2 separate regions of the Homo sapiens genome follow, and region 2 is linked to region 1. A link means that fine-mapping ties the variant in region 1 to the expression of a gene that starts in the linked region. Tissue or cell type: hippocampus. Region 1 holds a variant in brackets; the other region holds the start of a gene. All regions are shown on one strand. Distances are from middle to middle.

Region 1 (8,105 bases):
GTAAAGATCTAATAACATGACACATATAACCACACCCCTAAAGAATGAGGTGTTACCGCATGTTCTCACTCATAGGTGGGAATTGAACAATGAGAACACATGGACACAGGAAGGGGAACATCACACTCTGGGGACTGTTGCGGGGTGTGGGGAGGGGGGAGGGATAGCATTAGGAGATATACCTAATGCTAAATGACGAGTTAATGGGTGCAGCACACCAGCATGGCACATGTATACATATGTAACTAACCTGCACATTGTGCACATGTACCCTACAACTTAAAGTGTAATAATAATAAAATAATAAAATTAAAAAAAGAAATTTTGCTTAAATAAATATTATAATAAAAAAAACGAATGAGGTGTTATTAAAATGTTTGCAAGAGAAACCCTAGTAATTCCAAGCACATATTTTAGGAATGGTTTCTTGTGTAGAAAATCCTGGAATGTGAGGCTCTGCTGATTTTTTTAATGCATATTCTCTTCTTATGTATGCGGAATTTTTTTTTTTTTTTGAGATAGAGCCTTGCTCTGTTGCCCAGGCTGGAATGCACTGGCACGATCTTGGCTCACTGCAACTGCCACCTCCTGGTTTCAAGTGATTCTCCTGCCTCAGCCTCCCGAGTAGATGGAATTACAGGCGTGTGCCACCGCACTTGGCTAATATTTGTATTTTTAGTAGAGATGGGGTTTCACCATATTGGCCAGGCTGTTCTAGAACTCCTGACCTTGTGATCCACCCACTTCAGCCTCCCAAAGTGCTGGGATTACAGGCATGAGCCACTGTACCTGGCCTATTTTTGTTTTTACTAATGTTTCAAGAGACCCACTTTATGTACAGAATTCTGGCTACAACCTAACAAATGAGTTGCTCTGTTCATCAGTTATAGCCAATTTAAGTAATTATGAAAAGCTCAACAATACTTTAACTGGCAATGAAAGCGTCAATATCTCACATTTACCACCACAACTTAGGATTTCTTGGTAGCTAAATAAAATGCTTCTATTTTGTGGGGGGAAACTGTCACATAAGTTGAAATTCTGCAATGTTCAATTGATGAAAAGGTCTCTATGTTAAATCAAAGGTATAAATTCCACATCAGTAGTACATGAAAGAGAAAAAAAAAGCCAAAATTAAAGTGATCCATGCCCACTTCCCTGAGTGAACCTAAGATTTTACTAACAGAGATGCCGTAACTTTGATCATGCACACATCAAACTTGAATTTAAAAACATGCATGCACTCACTCATCTTTTATCTCTTATGTAATTAATACTGTAAGATTATATTTTGCCTACGTGCTCTATATTACTAATTTATAGGATTATTACTATTCAGTGTTGTTTACTTGAAACCATACTGTACTATACACAACTTTTGCATTCCATGCTAACTTTATTTTTTTAACTAATTTTTTTTTATACAGAGTCTCACTCACTCTATTGGCCAGGCTGGAGTGCAGTGGCACGATCTTGGCTCCTGCAACCTCTGCCTCTCGGGTTCAAGTCATTCTCCTGCCTCAGCCTCCCAAGTAGTTGGTACCACAGGTACATGCCACCACACCCGGCTAATTTTTGTATTTTTGGTAGAGATGGGGTTTCACCATGTGGGCCAGGCTGGTCTCGAACTCCTGACCTCAAGGTTATAGGCGTGAGCCACGATGTCCCAACTCCATGCTAACTTTAGAGCTTATTTCCCATCCCATAAGATACAACACTACTTGTGTTATATAGTGAGCAGTGTGGGGAAGAAAAGCATAGAATTAAGTTAGTGACAAATCCAGTGAACTCAAAAAGAGGGAAAAAACCACTCCCAAACAATTGTTTTCCCCATATTCTATTCTCCCTAGAGGTAGTCCATACAGGAACGACAAAAGAAAAAAAAGGATACAAAATGAGAAAGATGTTCATGTGACATATAAGTACAGTAATAAAATCAACAAGCATATATGGTATTTAAGCAAAATAGTATGTATGCATTGATGGTCATCTGATATAAATCCATCATTTCTGTTGGCCAACATCTAAAACCTTCACTTTTCTGAGGAGACAAGCTATAAATCTATACGGATATTTCTACAATGAGAATTCATTATTACATATGAACCAATATAATTTGATGTCAAATATTCACAATTAGGTTTAAAAAATCCCCTACTTGGCCGGGCGCAGTGGCTCATGCCTGTAATCCCAGCACTTTGGGAGGCCAAGGCGGGTGGATCATGAGGTCAAGAAACCAAGACCATCCTGGCCAACATGGTGAAGCCCTGTCTCTACTAAAAATACAAAAATTAACTGGGCGTGGTGGCAGGCGCCTGTAGTCCCAGCTACTCAGGAGGCTGAGGCAGGACAATCACTTGAACCCAGGAGGCAGAGGTTGCAGTGAGCTGAGATCGCGCCACTGCACCCCAGCCTGACGACAGAGTGAGACTCAGTCTCAAAAAAAAAAAAAAATCCCCTACTTATGTTAAGAGTACCAAAAATAGGGCCAGGAATGATGGCTCATGCCTATAATTTTGGCACTTTGGGAAGCCGAGGTGGGAAGATAGCTTGAGTCCAGGAGTAAAATAGTGAGACTCTGTCTCTACAAAAAAATAAAAAATTAGCTGGATGGGGCACACACCTGTAGTCCAGGTACTCACGAGGCTGAAATGGGTGGATCACTTGAGCCTGGGAGGTCAAGGCTGTAGTGAACTGTGATCACACCACTACACCCTACACCCAGCCTGGGCTACAAGGTGAGACCCTGTCTCAAAAAAAAAAAAAAAAAAGGTACCAAAAATCTATAGCTGTTTCAGGAATAAAATACATGTAGTTAGTGAGGTTTTTCTCTCCCACTGCTATGACTTAATTTTTGGTTGAGATGCTAAGCCAAACATCATTTTAAGTCTGTGGCCCAACCAAAAAAGGGAATCATACTCTCCAAAGAATTGTACATTCCCACTCTAATTGCTAAAATAAAATGTTGGATTATGAAAATCAATTTTATAGGTATCAATAAGTTATAAGAGCATGGCTTATTTAAAAAAAAAAGTGGGCCAGGTTACCTACATGAGCTGCAAAGCAAGCAAACTGAATTTTCTTATCGAAGAGCCCATCCTCATACTTAAAATTTCCCATGACTACATGGAAATTCTTTCACTTACCAAAAAGACCTGATTGGCACTTTCACTGAGAGTTGCGTCATCTGGGCTGTCGACAGGTGTCTGACGTGTAAACTTGGAATCAAACTGACTTACATCCTCTTCAGATTGCTTTATACAAACAAAATAATTTAGAAAATAATGAATAGTCCATATGACATCAATTAAATGCACTGTAAGCTCTGGGAGCTCTTTT[C/T]GCAGGGGTTAACTATAATAAAGTATTAGAATAGTCTTAGCAGGCACTTTTCTAATAGTGGAGAAATGCAAGTGGAAGAAAAAAATGCAAGTGGAAAGTACTGAGTCAAATTACATCTTCAAATCTTAAACATGCACTAAAAAAGATTTTAGTATACTGTTATTCCTATTAAAAATGTGAATATATTGACTGGGCATGATGGCTCAGGCCTGTAATCCCAGCACTTTGGGAGGCTGAGGCAGGCAGATCCTGAGGTCAGGAGTTCAAGACCAGCCTGGCCAATAAAGCGAAACCCCGTCTCTACTAAAACTACAAAACATCAGCCGGGCGTGGTGGCGGGCGCCTGTAATCCTAGCTACTCGGGAGGCTGAGGCAGGAGAATTGCTTGAACCTGGGAGGCAGAGGTTGCCGCAAGCAGAGATCGTGCCACTGCACACCAGCCCAGGTGACAGTGCGAGAGTCTGTCTCAATTAAAAAAAAAAAAAGAAAAGAATATATCGAGCTCAAAACAAGCTGGAAAAAATGTGAATATCAATTTCCCCTCTCACAAAGCTTCAGTGTGCCTAGTCCACTGGCTAAATCCCTGTTTAGAGATAATTAATTCAGTTGGCTACTGCAGGTTTGTAATAAACCTGAAAAACTACTGAAGCAGAGTTAAAACATGAATAATACTGGTAAGATGCTCCAGTTAAAGTTTCTTCTCACAGCTCATTTCATTCCTTCAGAAATCTAAAGGAGCAAAAATAATTTTCTATTCCGCATGGGTTATAAGTTATATTTCCTTGTGAAAGTATAGTTATCACTTCAGTTCTAACCATGAGATTTATTTATTTAATTCCTTCTCTCTTTCCCAAAATATCTGGTTAAACTCTTGGGCCAAATGTAAGAAGTAAATAATAATTTAGAATATCTGACTTAATACTAAAAGATGATGACCACATTGACCTTATAATTCTCTTAGAGCCCAGACTGTGAACCTGCACTCCCTGGAGGAATGGCTGATTCCAAGTGTGGGGAAAATGTACAAGATAAGCATAGAACACCAGTTTCCTTATTTTGCTCTCTCGTACAACACCAGACAATGTGCTCATGTCAAAAGGACTCAGAACCCAACATGAAGATGCACCCAGCATTCACTGCACCCAGCATTCAACGAAGGGAAAAAACGAGCACCAATAAAAATAACTGCTAGGTGCGGTGGCTCACGCCTATCATCCCAACACTTTGGGAGGCAGAGGCAGGTGGATTGCTTTTGAGCTCAGGATTTGAAGACCAGCCTGGTGAACACGGCAAAACCCCGTCTCTACCAGAAACACAAAAATTAGCTGGGCATGGTGGTGTACCTGTGGTCCCAGCTACTCAAGAGGGTGAGGTGGGAGGATTGCTGGAGGTCGGGATGTCAAGCCTGCAGTGGGCAGCGATTATACCACTGCACTACAGCTTGGGTGACAGAGTTAAGACCCTGCCTGAAAACAATAAATGAATAAATAAAAATAAAATAAAAATAACTGCGATGAAAGGAAACACAAATATGTTAAAACGTGTAAGTTCATAATATACTAAAAAAGAAAAAAACACACACACAAAGTTCATTGGTCAATTTTGGAAGATGCTAGGAAACTAATTCATTATTTTGAAAACTAGGAAAGAATCAAACATACATCCTGCCTTTTCTGTATGAACTGTACCTTGGGTAACTAACTGATCAAAGAGTTTCTCTTTATGAAAGAATTCCAGCTAACAAAGAAAGAAGAAATAACAGTTAGAATAAAACCATTTCACAAACACCTGATGAAACTACAAAAGTAGGCCAGAGTTTCTCAACCTCAGGGCTACTGACATTTTAGGCCTATTAATACTTTGCGTTAGGGGGCTGTGCTGTGCTGACTCTTACCCCTGAAGGTACCTATAGCATTCCCTCTCCCAAGCTGTGACAGTGTGTCTCCAGACATTGCCAAATTACCCTGGTAGTGAAATGCTGACACAGGCAGTGACCACTAACATCACTAAAAAAACACACATACGCACACACAAGTACACATTATGCCTCCTGATCAAAGCATATGCGATACTGAGAGTGTAATCTGAATCAGATCAACCACCTAAATTTAACTACCAGTTTTTGGAAATTTGGGGAACAGATGAACATGGTCAATGACACTCTGGGGATAATATCAGCAAAATCAAAATTTGAGAATTCTACAGGACAAATGACCCCGTTTCTTCAGTAAATCACGAGGGGAATCTATAAAGGAAAAGAGACCTAAGAGACATAGTAACCAAACTACATACAGACCTTGATTAACAGGAGGAAAAAAAAGAATGGAACAACAACAACAAAAAAATTAGGTGGGGCAACACAGGGAGACCTCATCTCTAGAAAAATTCAAAAAATTGGATGTGGTGATGCACCCCTGTGGTCCCAGCTATATGGGAGGATCCCTTGAGCCTGGGAAGCTGAGGCTGCCATGAGCCACTATCATGCCACTGCACTCCAGCCTGGGCAACAGAGAAAGACCCTATCTCAAAAAAAAAAGAGAAAAAAAAAAAACTGGGGAAACTGTCAACTTCTTAGGTGTGATGATGGGATGACAGTTATGTTTAAAGAAGATGATCTAATTATTTTTAAGCTGGGCAGTAGGTGTATGACAGTTCTCCTCCTTACAATTGTTTGTTGTTTTTTAAAGTGGGTCACATTATGGGGCATGACCAAAAAATAATCACCATCATCATCCTCCTCCTTCTCCACCTACAGCCCAAGGAATGGAAAAAGAAACTGTGTTTTCTCAGATTCTGAGGTGGCAGAAAGACAATAACACACTAACTCATTTACTCATAAACATATTGTTATGGATTGAATCGTGTCCCTTACTCACCCCCCAGAAAATTTCGTATGTTGAAACTCTAACCTCTAGTTCCTCAGAATGTGACCTTATTTGGAAAGGGTTATTGCAGATGTAATTAGTGAAGATGAGGTCCTACTGGAGTAGAGAGGAACCCTAATCCAATATGCCTGGTATCCTTATAAAAAGGGGAAATTTGGCCACAGATACGCACACAGGTAGAACACCATGTGAACATGAAGGCAGAGATCCAGGTGATGCACCTACAAGCCAAAGTATGCCAAAGATGACCAGCAAACCACCAGAAGCCAGGGGAGAGGCATGGAACATAAGGTTTCTCACAGTTGTCGAAGAAACCAACTCTAACAACGTGATCTAGAACTTCTAGTCTCCAGATCTATGAGATAATAAATTTCTGTTGTCTAAGCCACCCAGTTTGTGGTACTTTGTTGCAGCAAGCCTAGCAAACTAATGCACACATATTCTATATTTTGAAGAAAAAATTCCCAGAGAATCATATTTAAAATGGTTAAATTAAGCAAAATAAAACAAACCAAAAAAAGAAAAGTCCCAACTACCTGAAATATTTAATTGTCTTAGGAAACTGACTTAAAAATATCTAATACAGGCCGGGCACGGTGGCTCACGCCTGTAATCCCAGAACTTTGGGAGGCCGAGGTGGGTGGATCACAAGGTCAGGAGTTCAAGACCAGCCTGGCCAAGATGATGAAATCCTGTGTCTACTAAAAATACAAAAATTTGCTGGGCATGGTGGCAGGTGTCTGTAATCCCAGCTACTCAGGAGGCAGAGGCAGAGATTTGCTTGAACCCAGGAGGTGGAGGCTGCAGTGATCCGAGATCACACCACTGCACTCCAGCCTGGGGGACAGATCAAGACTCCATCTCAAAAATAAAAAAATAAAAATAAAGAAGAAAAACGCTATGGAATTTGACTAGAATTAGGGCTAACAATATGAAGCACTTTGGGAAGCCAAGGCAGGTGGATCACCATGTCGGCCAGGAGTTTGAGACCAGCCTGGCCAACATGGTGAAACCTCATCTTTACTAAAAATACAAGAATTAGCCAGGTATGGTGGTGAGCACCTGTACTCCCAGTTACTCCAGAGGCTGAGGCACGAGAATCACTGGAACCCGGGAAGCAGAGGTTGCAGTGAGCTGAGGCAGCCTGGTGTCCAAGCTGTGGTGAGCCATGACCATACCACTGCACTCAAGTCTGGGCAACAGAGGAAGTCCCTGTCTCAAAAAAAAAAAAAAAAAAAAAAAAGGGCCAGGTGCAGTGGCTCACACCTGTAATCCCAGCATTTTAGGAGGCTGAGGCGGGCAGATCATGAGGTCAGGAGTTGAAGACCAGCCTGGCCAACATAGTGAAACCCCATCCCTACTAAAAATACAAAAATCAGCCGAGTGTGGTGGCATGTACCTGTAATCCCAGCTACTCAGGAGGTTGAGGCAGAAGAATTGCTTGAACCTGGGAGGCGGAGGTTGCAGTGAGCCAAGACCACATCATTGCACTCCAGCCTGGGCAACAGAGTGAACCTCCATCTCAAAAAAAAAAAAAAAAAAAATTTAAAAAGGGAGTATAGGGCCAGCCGCGGTGGCTCACGCCTGTAATCCTAGCACTTTGGGAGGCTGAGGTGGCTGGATCATGGGGTCAAGAGATCAAGACCATCCTGGCCAACATGGTGAGACCCCATCTCTAATAAAAATACAAAAAATTAGCTGGACACAGTGGCGAATGACTGTAGTCCCAGCTAATCTGGAGGCTGAGACAGGAGGATCGCCTGAACCTCGGAGGTGGAAGTTGCAGTGAGCTGAGACCATACCACTGCACTCCGGCCTGGTGACAAAGCGAGACTTCGTCTCAAAAAAAAAAAAAAAAAAAAAGAGTTTAAAAAATTCTTT
Region 2 (8,105 bases), 710 kb after region 1:
TTGCTGATAAGTTAATATAGAATTTGAAATAGAAATCAAATCCATGGCTAAAAAATGAGTGGTCCAGGTCTGTGATTAGGCATAAGATCCAAGGCATTCCCTCTTTCACTCTCCCTGCACATGCAAAACTGGGCTTGTATCAGATACTTGTAATACATAGTTAGAGGTGGTCCTTTTCAGTTTCATTTCATTTCCTATAGATAATCCGGCTTTCTAATTTGGTAGTTTGAAAGATAATGTAAAGGCTTTCTAATTTGGTGGTTTGAAAGATAATGTAAAATGAATGTATAGTACAGCTAGAAATGAAATACTTTAATCCCTTTCACAGAACTGATATGAAATTGTTGTTTTATAGTATTTGTTACCTTTGAAGTTCCCCAGAAGGAAAACTATTTTGCCTGGCACAAGATACATATTAAGTTTCTCTGAAAGATGAACAAAAATAACTAATATCAAAATCAAATTTCAACTCAAAAGGTTCTAAAAGTAGCTCGATTCTTTCCAGTCCTTCATTAGACTTGGAAGAAATTTGAATATTTTATCTACTATGAAATATTCTTGTGGATGTGTGTGTGTTTCAGTATCAGATGCTATTAGAGTTCCAGGATTTCTTTTCCATATCACCTAGATTTCACTCTGGATTATTTATTTCCTTATTTAAAAAGTCAAAGGTTTGACATTAAATGGTATATAATTTCCAGTGCTGTTTTCAAATTTTGTTAAGACACAGCCAAGTTTATCTTTCCTGCAGAGAAGGCTTTAAAATAAGCAATATTTCACTGCATCCATATGATGGCTTATCTAATGGGGGAGGAGGCTATCCGGGAGGAATCTGGCAGTGTTCTTTCAGAAATAAAAATGTATGAAATACAGAGGAGACTTTTGAAACTCCCAGCCTCTGCATGCAGCACATTTCTTTATTTGCTTTATATGCAATCACTGGATCGGCTTGTTTTTACCTTTTTAGCATTTATACACATTAAATCCTAGCTAACTTATTCATTATAGCCTCTACTCCCTAGCCCCCTTTAAAGACATTCATTTAAATGAACTGCGCTCACTGGGAAGCTGCATTTTCCTATCAAGGCTGCTGAATTATTTAGCAGCTTTATTGTGCAATCGGGGTATTTGATAAGAAGCGTTTTCGAGTTGGGCACACGATGTGGATTCGATTCTTCTAACAACGTGGTTGTGGCGCAGTCTCTCCCCTCGTCGCGGGATTCAGAATCCTGGCGAAAACCCGAACAGGTGGCAACGCTCAGCAGTCAAATTTGGAGCCGAAGGCCCCAAGGAGGAGGCCTGGAAATGTCAGGGCCTGTTCTCCTTCCCATCAGTGCTGTGCCGCCCACCTCTGGCCCCGAGGTGCGGGGACGTGCGGCACCATACCTAGGCGGAGCTCCCGCAGGAGGCGCAGCAGGAGGGAAGCGCCACTGCAGTCCCCTCTCGCCTGGGAGGGCAGCCTGGTTTCTCCCTGTGGCCATCTTAAAGCCACCACCTCTGTGCCTCTCGCCACCTGCCTTCAGGGTTCCAGCAGCAGGGAGCCACCATCTGCTCTGGCGAGGGAGCTGAAGCTCACCCACCCAACTTCTCCGGGCTGGCTGCCGCTGGTAAGCTGCTCTAGGTGAGGCACTTGGGGAAGTATTACCTGTGGAGAGCCAGGATAGGCATTGCCAGGGCTGGCACCTGAGGGTGGACAGCATCTGAAGAGAGGCAAGTGGGAACTTGGTTTTCCCAAACTCTTGAAACTCCTTGTCAAGTGAGCAGACAGTTGTTTGGGACAATTGGAAAGTGTCACCCCTTGCCCATCCTCTGCTGTGCCTAATCGCCTGCCACTTTGCAGCCCTTGGAGGGCAGGGAGAGGGATTGTGGACTGGGCGCCCCTCCGCCTTCTCTGGAGAAGGCCATTCTGTTAGGGAACTGCTCACCCTTATTCTCCTCTCCCTGTTCCTCTCATCTGCTCTCATCTCTACATCAGTCAGAGGTTGAAACTCCTCGCCACAGTCCACTCTCCATCTCCATCCCTACCCCATCAATAAGCCCTTCCCCCACCATCTCAAGACACTGGAATGCAGGTAGGGAGAGGCCCCCAGAGGGAGTATTTGAGAATTTGCTCCCCTGTCCCTTGCCTCAACTACTCTCAGTTGCATCTTAATTCCTAGAATTACTTCCTCTTCCCTCCACTCCTGGAGTCCTCTTTCTACCTTCAGTATAAGGTCAGGCAAACATTTTGGGGGGCCCTGGGATGTGTGTGACAGTAGAACGGTCTTGATTCCTTGCTAAAATGGCTTCCCAAGTCAGTAGGGACCAGGACAGAGAAGGGAGAGTAAGTAAACAGGTCTATGGCATTTTCTGCTGAGTGTTTGCCCAGCACAGCCCCCAAATTGACCAGCAGTGTCCTGTTTGCATGACAGCTTAGAGGTGGTCTCTGCAGTGACTCACCTCCCTTTCTCTTTTCTTCCTTCTCTTTACCTCAAAGGCCAGGTTTCTAAGCATTGTAAGTACCCAACATAGCAAGGGGATAGGATTGCAGGAGGTAGTTTCTTAAATGTGGGGTGGGAGAAACATTTTTGTCCTTTGAAGCCCCATGGCACCTTGTCAAGGAGCAAGGAACACACTTTTGCTTGGGAGGCCCGGACACAGGCACAAGACTGCAATTATAGAGGATAAACGAAAAACTGTTCTCTTAGGCTAAGCTCTCTTATGGATGGTAAAAAGCCGTTTTCTTCTCCTGAGTGCCCTGCCTAGCCTGGCATTCTTTTCCTTCCATGTCTGAGGGGGTTTACCCTCAGACAGGTTCTCCTTCCCCTCTGCAGCCCTGGTTGTCTTCATTCTTCAAGGGCCACTTTACAGGGACATGGAACAGGCTCCACTAAAGTGGTGTCCTCTTATTGCTCTTGGCCCTGAGGACATATGAAGATTGTGAAAGTCAGAGATCCTCTCTTCCCTTGGTTTTCATGGGAGACAGTAGAGAGCTGAGGGTTCCCCAGTTGTTCAGCTGTGGGATCCAACTGGCCCGGGCTGTACCCAAGGGGCACTGCCACAGTGCACCACTAACATCTCTTTTCTGGATCCTTTTGAGGCAGATTCTGTTTAGAGGGGTCTAGGTCTCTACAGGCAACCTCCAACAGATACCATAAGAATAGACCACTTTGTAGTCACACTTATCATCCCTTATTGCAGTTTCTGTTTACATGTTTGTCTACCCTCCTAGGCTGATTACCGTGGGGGGGAGAATCCAACTTACTTATCTTGTATCTTATCTAGCAGTGCCTGCCACATAGTGGGCAGTCAGGGAATGCTTGATGAAGGAAAGAGGATGTAAAGCGATTGTGTCTTTCCGTGTGCGGGGTGCAATTACATTTATACTATTAAGTCTTTATATTTTGAGTCTGTCCCTCTAACGGTAGACCTGTATTTTTCTGCATTTGTGCACCTGCTTAAGCTGCCTGAGCATGCCCTCATCTCTGAACAGCAAAGATAATCAATACCGAGGGGTATGCAGTGGAGTAATCCACACCCCACCCCCTTTCCCTTGCTCAGGCAAGGGTACTTAGAGACGCTACTGAAACTATCTTTAGCCACAGCGATTCCTAAGTATTCCCATTAAGAAAGACGCCAGCAGTCCGCCACACACTTACACGTGCATATCCCTGACATAGGATTCCCAAATCCTGGCCGCTGAAGGGCGGGAGGCGTGTGCCCGGCCTCAGACTACTATAAATTGCGAAATGACAAACCTGCTTTGGGTCCCAGTCTCTGCGTGCCCGAGTGCGCACCCGCGATTCGAGCAGCTTAAGCCCTACTCCCTCCTCCTTCCCAAATCAGCCACCGTGGGCCACGGCTACGCTATGCTTTATTCCTAAGCGAATCTCGCACAAATCTCGAGGCATATTTTGTACAAGGGGACACTGGCCGCGCGCATCGCAATCGCATCTCAGCGACAGAAGCGGTCACGTGCCTTGGCGCGCTTCCGCACCGCCCCTTCCCGCGCACTCGCACGCGCACGCGCACACGCGCCCATACGGCTCCAATCCCTTCAACCTTCTGCGCGCTTCCGCCTTCATGCTAGCAACGCCCGCAGTGACGCGCAGGCCCCGCCCCCTCCCGCGCGCCTCCCGGAAGTGGCCGGTCCAGAGCTGTGGGGTGGCCTCCGCGCGGTCTCTGGCGGAGTCGGGGAATCGGATCAAGGCGAGAGGATCCGGCAGGGAAGGAGCTTCGGGGCCGGGGGTTGGGCCGCACATTTACGTGCGCGAAGCGGAGTGGACCGGGAGCTGGTGACGATGGCGGGGCCGCAGCCCCTGGCGCTGCAACTGGAACAGTTGTTGAACCCGCGACCAAGCGAGGCGGACCCTGAAGCGGACCCCGAGGAAGGTGAGGCCGGACTGGGGCAGGCCACGTGCGGAGCGGTGGGCCAGGCCCTGTGGGGCAAGGGGGCGGCGTGGGAGGGGCGTGCGCGAGGCCGCCGGGCCTGCGCTCCTTCGCTTGGCGCAGAGGAACGTCGCCTCCCGCGAGGGTGGTCCCGGCCTCGGGAGGAGGGCTTCGGCTTCTTTTCACACGCACTCGAAACTTGGTGCTCGGCTGGATGGGCGGAACAGATCGAGGGCTCAGGCCGAGAGGAGCTGGTCTTCAGGTTTACTTGCTCCAGGCCTGTTGGAGGGAGCCAGAGAGTCTGCTAGCAAGTTGGAAGTTAGCTTTGAGGATGCCCTTTCTGGTATTGCGTTAGAAAGGAGGAGAAGAAAGTCGCATGTTTTTAATTCAGGTTGCCCTTCAAAACTAAGTTGGAGACTGATGGAAGGATTTTCTGGTGCTGTTTAAGTCTCTTGAAGTCTCAAGACACTTGTTCAGTGGCTGACGACTGAGACTCCTGTTCTGTAAGCTGATGTTCAGAGTCTAGCTGGGAGTAATCCCGCTTTAGACTTGAGTCGGAAGTGTGAGAAAGGGATAATAAGGAGGGATAAATGCGAGTGCTGAACCGTATCTTAGGAAGATCAGTTGAAGAAACTCGGGACTGTTTAGCCAGAATAAGCAAAGAAAACTCCCCAAAGAATGGGACAGAGTGAGGGGAGAACGTGATGACTGATTTAAGATATTGGAGCGACTGTCACACATTGAAGAGGAATTCAACTAGTTTGATAGGATCCAAGTCATAGAAATAGATCCCACTAGTAGATGCCAGGAGTCAACTTTCTGTTTAGAAACAGCAGTAAGACAGTGTTCTACTTTGGGAGAGAGTGAATTTCCTATTCCTGGAAGTTGGTGGGGATTTCGTAAAGGACGTTCAACTATGAGATAAATGGGTCGACCAGGGTTCCCGTTAAAGTTTCTGCTAACCTGGAGATTCTGTTTACTTTTCCCTCTCCCCCGACAGCCACTGCTGCCAGGGTGATTGACAGGTTTGATGAAGGGGAAGATGGGGAAGGTGATTTCCTAGTAGTGGGTAGCATTAGAAAACTGGCATCAGCCTCCCTCTTGGACACGGACAAAAGGTATTGCGGCAAAACCACCTCTAGAAAAGCATGGAATGAAGACCATTGGGAGCAGACTCTGCCAGGATCGTCTGGTGAGTAGACATTTTTGAATGGAACTCTTCTCTTCCCTAATTTTTTCAGGGTTAAAATCCTCCGGTCATCCCCCATGATCTTTGCAAGAGTAGTCTGCGGATCTTTTTTTTGAGACAGAGTTTGGCTCTTGTTGCCCAGGCTGGAGTGTGATGGCGCCATCTCGGCTCACCGCAACCTCCACCTCTGGAGTTCAAGCGAGGCTCCTGCCTCAGCCTCCCGAGTAGCTGGGATTACAGGCATGCACCACCACGCCCGGCTAATTTTGTATTTTTAGTAGAGACGGGGTTTGTCCATGTTGGTCAGGCACCCCTATCTGTTATCTTAGGAGAGACCATTGATTTGGTATTAGAAAGGGTCTTAGAGGTTACTTCATTTCACTTCATAAGGAATCTAAAGCCCAGAGTGATTAAGTTGCTATACTCCTTATGTTCGGACTAATGGCTCACCCTACAGTGGAGTGACAGAGAAGGCAGTGCATTTTGGCTACTGGAGAGGGTTATGAGCTGAAAAACCACTGTGTCTGATGAACATGTTATCCTTGAATTGTGACCCCTGACCTTTGGTTTTCCAGGACTTGCATTGAAGCACTGTGTGATATTAGTTATTTGTGAAACTCATTTTTTGCCATTCTAAAAAATCACATAATCCTTCTCTTCCCTGCAAAAGAGTTAGGAGTCTGTGCGCTTATAGTTTTAAAGAATTGTAAATTTCTCAGAGTGGAAGAAGGGGCTAGATATGGTGATTATTGGGAGAATGTCATTTGTTTTCCTTTAGAAAGGTCAGGGGTGTCATGTTGAGAATCCACAGATAATATAAAAGGAACTATCATTTAGGTTATGATATCTATGATTTAGTCCTTGATGTAGTTCTGGGAGCTCCTGATAAGCTCATTTCATATTCTTTGCCTAGAGACTGATAAAGGGACCAATCATGAGACAAATATGATAATATTTATTGAGTTCTTACCATGCGTCAGGCACTGAGTTTAGCTCTATAATTTAAGTTCTAAGAGCCTGGGACACAGTAAGTCCTCAAAAAAAAAATTATAAAATTACCTGGAATTAGACAGATTTTTATAAAAAATTATCACCATTATCACTACATGTGTCACCTAATTTAATCCTCCCAATTGCGCAGGAAGTTATTACTACTTAGCCCCATTTTACAGATAAGGAAATCGAGGGGCAAATTGGTTACATAAGTTTGCTCAAGGTCATATAGTTAGTAAGTGGAAGAAACATGATTCAAATGTAGGCTGTCTGACTCCAAGATGTACACTCTAGTAAACTCTGTATGAATGTTTCTTAATCTGAGAAATGGCGTACATTCAAAGAATTTAAATAATAATTTCTGTTTACTGTTTTGGCACTTAGTTTTTGTATTTATATTTTTGGCAGCTTTGTGTCTTAAGTTTATATATACCTTTTTAAAGAAGCGCTGAAGACCTGTCACGCTTTCCTAAAATCTTTATTTTATTGAAGAAAGTTTTTGGAAACTGGTCCCTCTATCTTAGAATCATACTTGAAACACATGGGGCTTTTATGTTCTACCATGGAACAGATTGGATAAACTGTAAAAACCTCTACATATCAGATGATACTCTAAGCATAAGTCAAACAAAGAGCCTTAACTAGCACTCTGTCTACTATAGGATCAAGTTCAGAGTCCTCATGAAAGACGAGACCTTTCCTGATTAGTCTCATCTCCCATCACTTCCTTGTGCATCCTGCACTCCAGTGCGTTTTCCCTTCATTATCTATGAGCTGTTGCCTTATGCTTCATAAGTAAAATTATAATGTCTCCTTCTCCACATGATACCATCCCCCACCTTTCCAGGAGAGTTAGGTGGTTCCATCTCCATACACTGTGTACTAATGACCTTGTAATATAATTATTGGCATGCATATCTACCACTCCCACCAGACCATGAACTCCTCCCAGCAAGTATTAAATTCTATTTGCCTTTCCTTAGCCCCTGGCTCATAATGAGTGCTTAATAAGTATTTAGTAAATAGGGCAGACGGATGTGATAGATTGTACATTTTTTCAGATCAGGTTTGGGAAAACTGGTAATTCTCTAACACCAGTTGAAATCTTACTGTTCTTCAAGGGCCAGAGCAAATGCTAGCTCTTCCTTAGAGATTAGCTTAAATTCACTTGCCCCACAGTTAAAATTTCTCACTCTTCTGGGTTATTGAAATTTTGTCAAAGCACTTCTGATGCTTCCTTGAGTTGTAATGTTGTGAGTCTGTCTTTCCCACTAGCTCCTTTTGTTAGGGTAGGACCCGTGTTCTATTCATCTTTGCTTCTCCCTTAGCATTTTGGAGATTGTAGATGTGTAATAAATATATTGTTGAATTGAGTGCAGTAAGAGATTTTCCCCCTGATGCCACAGTGCTTAAGTTGAAATGAAGTCTATGGCTTGGTATTTTCTCCAGGTAATACCCATTTTTCTCTTTCTTCCCTCTCTTCTTTGTAGATGAGGAAATATCTGATGAGGAAGGGTCTGGAGATGAAGATTCAGAGGGACTGGGTCTGGAGGAA

Evidence for each region. PIP is the estimated chance that this variant, and not a neighbour inherited with it, causes the effect.
Region 2: AATF starts here. The variant in region 1 is fine-mapped to the expression of AATF in hippocampus (GTEx, PIP above 0.99).

Annotation. Positions count from the first base shown.
Region 1 is chr17:36,231,301-36,239,405 of GRCh38, forward strand. It overlaps LOC105371747 (a long non-coding RNA gene), which reads right to left and starts at 6,507. Exons shown (of 3, transcript XR_934703.3): 1 at 6,249-6,507; 2 at 3,147-3,254. The variant C/T (reference allele first, on the strand shown) is at 3,340.
Region 2 is chr17:36,944,846-36,952,950 of GRCh38, forward strand. AATF (apoptosis antagonizing transcription factor) reads left to right here and starts at 4,109. Exons shown (of 12, transcript NM_012138.4): 1 at 4,109-4,371; 2 at 5,369-5,560; 3 at 8,041-8,105. The coding sequence starts at 4,281.